Linked DNA regions of Homo sapiens. The protein of the gene in region 2 interacts with the protein of the main gene of each other region in a biochemical or structural test. Each region holds a gene or a part of one and is shown on either strand. Other genes may lie near its edges.

Region 1 (3,665 bases), on a different chromosome or scaffold from region 2:
TTGGTTGGTGTCAGGAGGAAAAAAATTTCTCTCATTTTGTTGTCAGAAACACTGAGTAAAAAGTGCTCAGACACTAACCTACAGACTGCTTCTGTGCTAAGTGCCAGGCATTAGTCTAAGTGCTTATGTAGATTAATTTATTTAATCTCCACACCAGTTTTTTGAGGGCAGCATTATTACCATCTTCATTTTACAGATGAGAAACTATGGCACAGAGAGGTTAGGCAACTTGCTCTCAGCCGTGTTACTACGAAGTAGTAGAGCAGCTTCCAACCCAGAAAATCCAGCTTTCAGAGCACCAACTTTTACCCACCACACAATACTGACCCATGTACCCTAAAGAAAGTACACAGATCAAGTATTTAGCACTTGATTTTTGCAGTGTAAGAAAACAGTTTCACTGATATTTCCTCACTAGAATTCATTATGGAACTCAATAGTGAGTTCCATTAGGTCTGTAGCTAAGATCAGGCCTTTCTTATTCAAACACGTAAGATGTGGGGCAAATAAAAGAGGACAGGACCTATTTTTAGCCTGGCAAAGTTCCCTGGATCAATAATAGCCAAAATAGCAACAGGGTCCAGGTGCCACTACTCTTGACGCACTGCCACTGACCCTCTCCAGACATCCTGCCTTATTCCCTGGGCATCCTGATTAAATACAGTAAATAAGTAGCGTCTCCTGTACCTTTATCCTCCCTCCATTCAATAGCCAACTTGCACCAATGCATCTCCTTACTGACCTCAAGACTCTCTGGCAATACATAATAGGTTCTGCCTTGAAAAAGAATTTGGACTATATGCAAAGTTCTTGGCATCAAAGAATTCTCTCCCTCATTCATTCATTCATTCATTCATTCATTCACAGAAGCAGCAACCAAATACAAGTGGCAGAAATTGCTATAGGTTGAGTTTCACTTACCCAAAATGCTTGGGTCTGTAAGTGTTTGGGATTTTTTTGGAATTTGGAATATGTGCATATACATAATGAGATATCTTGGGGATGGAACTCAAGTCTAAACACGAAATTCATTTATGCTTCATGTACATCTTATACAATATATTTAATAATTTTGTGCTTGAAACAAAGTCTTGACTGCATTTTGACTGGGACCCATCATATGAGGTCAGGTATGGAATTTTCCACTAGTGGTGTCATGTCGGTGCTCAAAAAGTTTTAGATTTTGGAGCATTTTAAGATTTCAGATTTTTGGATTAAGATGCTCAACCTGTACTGCCAGTCTAGTTAAAACCTCAGGCTTTCACATTAACAGAATCCTAGCTCCATCACTAACCAGCTTGTGTGATCCTGGGCTTCTCTAACCTTCTGTTTCCTCATTAGTAAATGGTGATACCAAGTACCTACCCATAGAATCTTGTGAGGATTAAAGCAGGTATTGTGTGTATATGGCAGACTAAGCACCCCATAAATGTTTAGTTAGACTAAGCACCCACTACCTTAAAGATCTAAGCAATTGCTAAATCTGGTCAGATTATTCTTTCAGACATCAAAGAAATACGAGCTTTAAAATATTTTCATCTAAAATGGTAAGATGTGCTGGCATATTTAATGGTTGCTATTATGTGCTGCATCCCTAATAATGCTGGATAGCTTTACGGTATTAACATTCTGACATTCTAGAAAATGAAAGGTATAACAAGTACACATGCACACACACACACACCAACTACAACCCGAGGAGAATACAGTTGAGCATCCCTGTGCTTTCAGAAGATAATAAATTGGAATTGGCAAAAAAGACTTTTCTCACTATTTGGCTCTATAGTTTCCCTCAAAATCCTATTTTTTACAGGGTGCAAAACACTTATATGAGAACACTTAGGAATAAGCAATCTTCCTACAGCGTAGTTAACTTCAGAGTGTCTTCTATCTATCATGGTGATGTCATACACTATTGGTTATTTTGCTGTTCCTATAATCAAATAAATATAAGTCTAATAAACTTAGGTAAGTGTTCAGCAAGTTTTCAGCAAAACTGTTAGCAGAACTATTCAAGACCTAGTCTTAAATAAAAACAAAAATGGCCAAAATCTGGTTGGTTCATGAAGTACCTTTAAGGTGGCTGCTATTTTGAAGAAAGTCATACCACTGGTTTCCTTCTGTGTTAGGGGGTGACACAAGATCATCATCTTCATCTTTCAAGTACTAGAAATACAGAATTAGAAATTTAAGTTTATTCATACCTGGAAGGGAAAATGGAAAAAGAAAAAAAGTAAAAGACAAAAAAAAGTTAAGTTTAGTAAATCAAAGACTTAGGGCCTAAAATCGGTTTATTTTTAACACTTTTTTAACTTAATAAGTTACTTTGTTTTATTGCCAAGTCCTCTGAAAGTGCATTACTATCATTCTAAGTGAGGTAGCCAAAATCTGCTATGTGTATGTGGCAGAATTAAGCCCTCCATAAATGTTAGCTAGCTACTATCTTAAAAATTAAAGAAACTGCTGAACAGTTGGTAGTTTGTTTAGTCAAGCAACTAAACAAACCACAAAGTATTAAAAGATTATTATGTTGTAGATGTAGAGATCACAAATCGAACTTAAATTGTGTTTCTTTTTCATGAGCATATTTTAATTTAACATATGCAAGTTATAAATTAGTTTCATAAGTATCCATTGTCAATGTACTGTCAATATACTCTATGGCAGTTGTTCTTCAAGTGAGATCCACAAGCCCCTGGGAATCCCCAAGATGCTTTTGGGGATCCACAAAGTCAATACTAGTTTTATAATAATGTAGCTGTCACCTGCCCTTTACACTATGCTAACATTTGTACTGATGGTGGGGAAAGCTGTAAGTGTCTCAGCCAAGAGTCAAGGTAGTAGTCCCAAATCATACCAGCAGTCACTGTATTCTTTTTCTGCCACATACTCATAGTTTCATTTATCTTTAATGAAGTCATTAAATTATTAACTTTATTTTCAACCCTTGAGTACGAATCTTTAATATTCTGTGTGACAGAATTGAGAGTTATACATAGGAACTTTTGCTACACAAAGTATGATGGTTATCTTGAGGAAAAGCACTTATGTTAAAAGCAAAAATAGGCTGGGCACGGTGGTTCATGCCTGTAATCCCCGCACTTTAGGAGGCCATGGCAGGCGTATCACTTGAGCCCAGGAGCTCAAGACCAGCCTGGGCAACATGGCAGGTCTCCACAAAATAAAGACAAAAATTAGCCAGGCATGGTGGTGTGTGCTTGTAGCCCCAGCTACAAGAGGCGAGTCCGAGAGGTGGAGGCTGCAGTAAGCTGTGATTGCACCACTGTACTACTCAGAGGAAATATCTTGTCTCAAAAAAAAAAAAATTTTTTTTTTTTTTGGAAAACCTGCATCTGCCCCTGTGTGCTTCACAACACAAAGACTTTTCTGATTAAATTGGTGGTGCTATTAATGAAATCTAGCTTATAGTTTGATAAAAGGTGGCGGCATTTAGAACAGCTGGATGACTCAGGGAACCAATACTTCCCAAATGACCAAAGCAGGATGTTACAAAATTATGCGTGGACAAAAGATCCGTTCAAAGTGCAAGAAGATGAATGAATTTTAATGTAAAAAACGTTCACTGATGCAATTTTAGATTCCACACTGAAACAAACCTTTAAGATACTATCACTTGTCCACATTTGATATAATAAAGCAAAGTC
Region 2 (3,665 bases):
GGGCACTAGAGTGTGGCTGTCCCAGCACATCAGGCCTGAGCAACAGGAAGTGGCTGAGTCATGCCTGGGACCCAAGGCAGGACCCTGGAGGGAGGCCATTGGGGCCTTGCCTGGAAGCAACGCTGGAGAGCCTGAGGCAGCCAGAGGGGCAGGGGGAAAGGGACCGAGCACGGAGCCGGGCCACACGGATGATTTGTACCAGAACACAGCGGGGCACGGTGCCCGCAGGCTCCAGAGACACCAGGCTGTATCACAGGCCAGAGCTCGAGGTGTGGGGATGGCCAGGGTGCTCCTTTCCACCGAGAGCAGGTGCAAGCCACACAGACCCTCCACAAGCTGCAAGGGACACCTGGACTCTTCCAGAGCCAAGCTGAGGCCTGGAGGGAGGCAGCAGGCATTCGCCACCATGGTCAGCAGCCCGGCCCTACCACAGCCCCTTGGCCTCCTGCCCTGGGGGCCTCCGCCTGGCCCTCCCCTTGTCTGTCTCCGGAAGGAAGCTTCCCCCTTGGTTTCTAAAGTGGACACATCGCCCTGCCCTCCCCTAGGAGTAAGTTCCCTTGGTTTGTCAACACAGCAAGGCCCTCTTACTTGCAAAAGAAAAAGGAAAACACATCTAGGTCCAGCCTCCTTCACAGCAGACCTGGAGAAGCTGTGGACCCTCCCTTGAACTCAGCCCCGCCCGCCCGCCGGCCTCCTGGCGGCTCTGTCCTGAGGCTGCTCCTCCTGCCTGGGCCGAGGCTGGACCATCCCCTTCCTGGGGTACCTGGGGTTGGGGTCTGCAGACTGGATGCTGGCTGTGCCCCAGAACCCTCTCCTCACATGTCCCCCGCTGGGGTGCCCGCCTCCCCCCAGTCCTGAGCACTCGCTGGGCACACTGGAGGCCTCACAGGCCCCACACATCAGACAGAAAGCCCTGGAACCCGCCTGTGACGACCATCCCGACCCCTTCCTCCCCGAGCCGACACCTCCCACCTGTGACGACCATCCTAACCCTTCCTCCCCGAGCTGACACCTCCCACCTGACTATGAGCTCAGGGAAAGAACCGCCAAGCCTAGTTCCATCCCTCAGGCTCTGGACGCCTGTACTGGGACTGCTGGGATCTCAGCAGTGCTGCCAGGGGAAGTGAGCCAAACGTGGCCAATACCATCCTCTGGGCACACTGTCCCCATCTGCCAGTGACCTCCAGGCCAGGGCTCACTCCTCCACTCCCCACATCTGCTCCCCTCCTACTCCCACCACAGACCCATAGCCCCGGTCCTCAAGTACCACTGGAGCCTGCAAAGGCAGTTCTCGAGGAAACAGACCTGGAGAAGGGGGCAGGGCTGGGGTCCTGGGGGTCAGGTGCGCCTGGGAGTGCTGCCCTGGGCAGAGGGCAGCCCTGGCTCCCTAGCTGCCTCCCTGCAGTGACGCAAGGCACCCCAAGCCCCGGTTCTGAGAGGCAGAGGGTGGATAGCAAAAGAGGAGGAAACGCTCAGAGGGCAGGGCCTGCTGTGGCCACAGGGGTCCCCCTGAAGCAGTTCAGGAGACCTGGGCCCAGCACAGCCCACCCAAGCGCCTGTGGGCCGCGCGGACGCTCGCTCACAGGGGACACGGGGTTGCTGGGAGGAAGGCGGAGAGAGCGTGGGCCAGGCCCACTCCCTCTCCTGCAGAGGCGGCTGCGAGACAGGACCAACCCAGAGACACTCGGGTGACAACGGGGCAGCCACAGGCACCAGGCTGCTGGGAGCCCCGCAGTGCAGGGTAGGGGTGCCAAGAGCCCATGGGGTGGCCTGGCATGGAGGTACCTTGAGCTGCTCATACTTCTTGCAGTAAGCCTCCAGGGCTGCCCTGATATCCTCGGGGACCTCCAGCTTCTCGTCCTTGAAGGGCGGCCAGAACTCACTGGACAGGATGACAGCGTAGACCCCGAACGGTGGCTGCTCCTCTGCTGGCCGCTTCTCATCCTCCTCCCGGATGTTGGCATTGATGCGGCGGGAGTCCGCCATGTCCTGAGGAGGAGCCGGTGTCACGGGGGACCTGCGGGGCGGCCGGGCAGCGGGCGGGGCTGGGACCCACCTTCAGCATGACTTCACAGAAGTGCATTGGGGCCTCGCCAAAGCGCAGCTTCAGCAGCTCCACGTTGCGGATCTCCCTGGAAAGACGAGTGTCTGGGCAGGGGGTCGTGATGAGCCCCAGCCCCAAGGAGCACCTGTGGCAGGGCACGGGGGTGCCCCCCAGGCAGAGCAGGGAGCCTGTGTGGGCACCCCAATGGCTAGCACACCCCCAGCCAGGAGTGGGGGCGGAAGCACAGCTCCAACCAGGCCCCAGGCACGGCGTCAGGGCCCTGTCCCGAGAGAGGCTGGGCAAAGGCCCCGGCACCCCTGGAGATGGCCAGCGCGTCACAGGCCTCACCGCTCGGGGCTGAAGCTGAACTGGTGCAGCAGGCGGTCGGCCAGCAGCGAGCGGTACTCATTGATGAAGAGGTCCTTGCTGCCGTAGATGCTGACCAGCAGGCTGATGATGTCCGATGAACGCCGCTTGGAGCTCGACTTCCCTGGCATGGTGGGGGCAGGGGTGTCACCTGACAGGCACCTGGGCAAGGACAGGGCCGCCCTCCTCCCATCCCGCCCAGCCAGACGGCACAGCCCAGCATGGCTCTTCCTGAAGGCCCTCGAGGCTGGGAGCAGCCCTGAGCCTCCCGGGAGACCTGGAGTCAGGTCCTGGAGCAACAGCTTCAATCCCCAGCCCCTCTCACCCCACAGGGACCTTCCGGGACTCCCATGCAGGCTTAGGGGACAAGCCAAAGGTCCTGGGGTTTTCCTCTGAGAGAGACTAAAGATGTGTTGAAGACTTACCATCTGTGCCAGGGCAGGGGCCAGGCCTGGGCCCCATAGCCCTCAGAGCCCTCGCAGACGAGGGCCAGGCACAGATGGGCTCTGAGCAGGAGCTGGCACCCTAACGGGACTTTGAGGCCCAAATCAGTACAGAGCTCAGGGGTCACCCACATCTTCACTCCTCTGCCAGGTGCAGTGGCGGGGCAGGGACACCCCACAGCTCACAAGCGGTGGGAGGCAGGGCATCCCCCACGGCCAGAGTGACCAGCCACAGAGGAAAACAGCCCATCACCGGCCTGCCCAGGCTGGCAGGTGGCGGAGCACTGCCCTGACCTTTGACACCCTCAAGCCTCTGAGACACTAGCGACACCTGACACAGCCAAGCTCTGTGACAAGGGATGAGTCCAGAGCGGACGGCCTGGCTGAAGCGCCCCCCACACTGGTGAAAGGGACCATGTGGGGCAAGCTAACCTGGATCGGCATCCACAGGGTCCGGGACCCAGTCCTCTGGCTCGCCTGAGTCATCCTCACTGTCCTGGCCTGTCTCCAGGCTCGCCGGGTCGGTCTTGGACAGCTCAACAGCCAGGTCCCCTGTCCCGTCCGAGTCCCCCGTCAGCCCAGCCACAATCTGCCGCACTGTGTCCTCCCGCGTCCTGCCGATGTGAGTGCTGCTGTGGCCCACAGTGTGGACACCCCGCGCGCACCTCCCACCACTCATTCCAGTCCCGGCCCCATCTAGGCCAGCACCACCGACCCTGCCTCTACACTCAGTGGTGATGGGCTATGTACTAAACACAGGCCCGTCAGACTCCTTAAAAACAAATAAACCCAACGTTACTTGGGAGCAGCAG

Evidence for each region.
Region 1: the proteins of ANAPC2 (region 2) and ANAPC4 form a complex in vitro, tested with the Homo sapiens proteins (one study listed by BioGRID).

The regions. Positions count from the first base shown.
Region 1 is NC_000004.12:25,408,199-25,411,863, reverse strand, and holds part of ANAPC4 (anaphase-promoting complex subunit 4), read right to left. Parts: intron 2,167-3,665; coding exon 2,073-2,166; intron 1-2,072. UniProt on the Homo sapiens protein: Component of the anaphase promoting complex/cyclosome (APC/C), a cell cycle-regulated E3 ubiquitin ligase that controls progression through mitosis and the G1 phase of the cell cycle.
Region 2 is NC_000009.12:137,178,396-137,182,060, forward strand, and holds part of ANAPC2 (anaphase-promoting complex subunit 2), read right to left. Parts: intron 3,468-3,665; coding exon 3,286-3,467; intron 2,535-3,285; coding exon 2,393-2,534; intron 2,133-2,392; coding exon 2,057-2,132; intron 1,990-2,056; coding exon 1,786-1,989; intron 1-1,785. UniProt on the Homo sapiens protein: Together with the RING-H2 protein ANAPC11, constitutes the catalytic component of the anaphase promoting complex/cyclosome (APC/C), a cell cycle-regulated E3 ubiquitin ligase that controls progression through mitosis and the G1 phase of the cell cycle.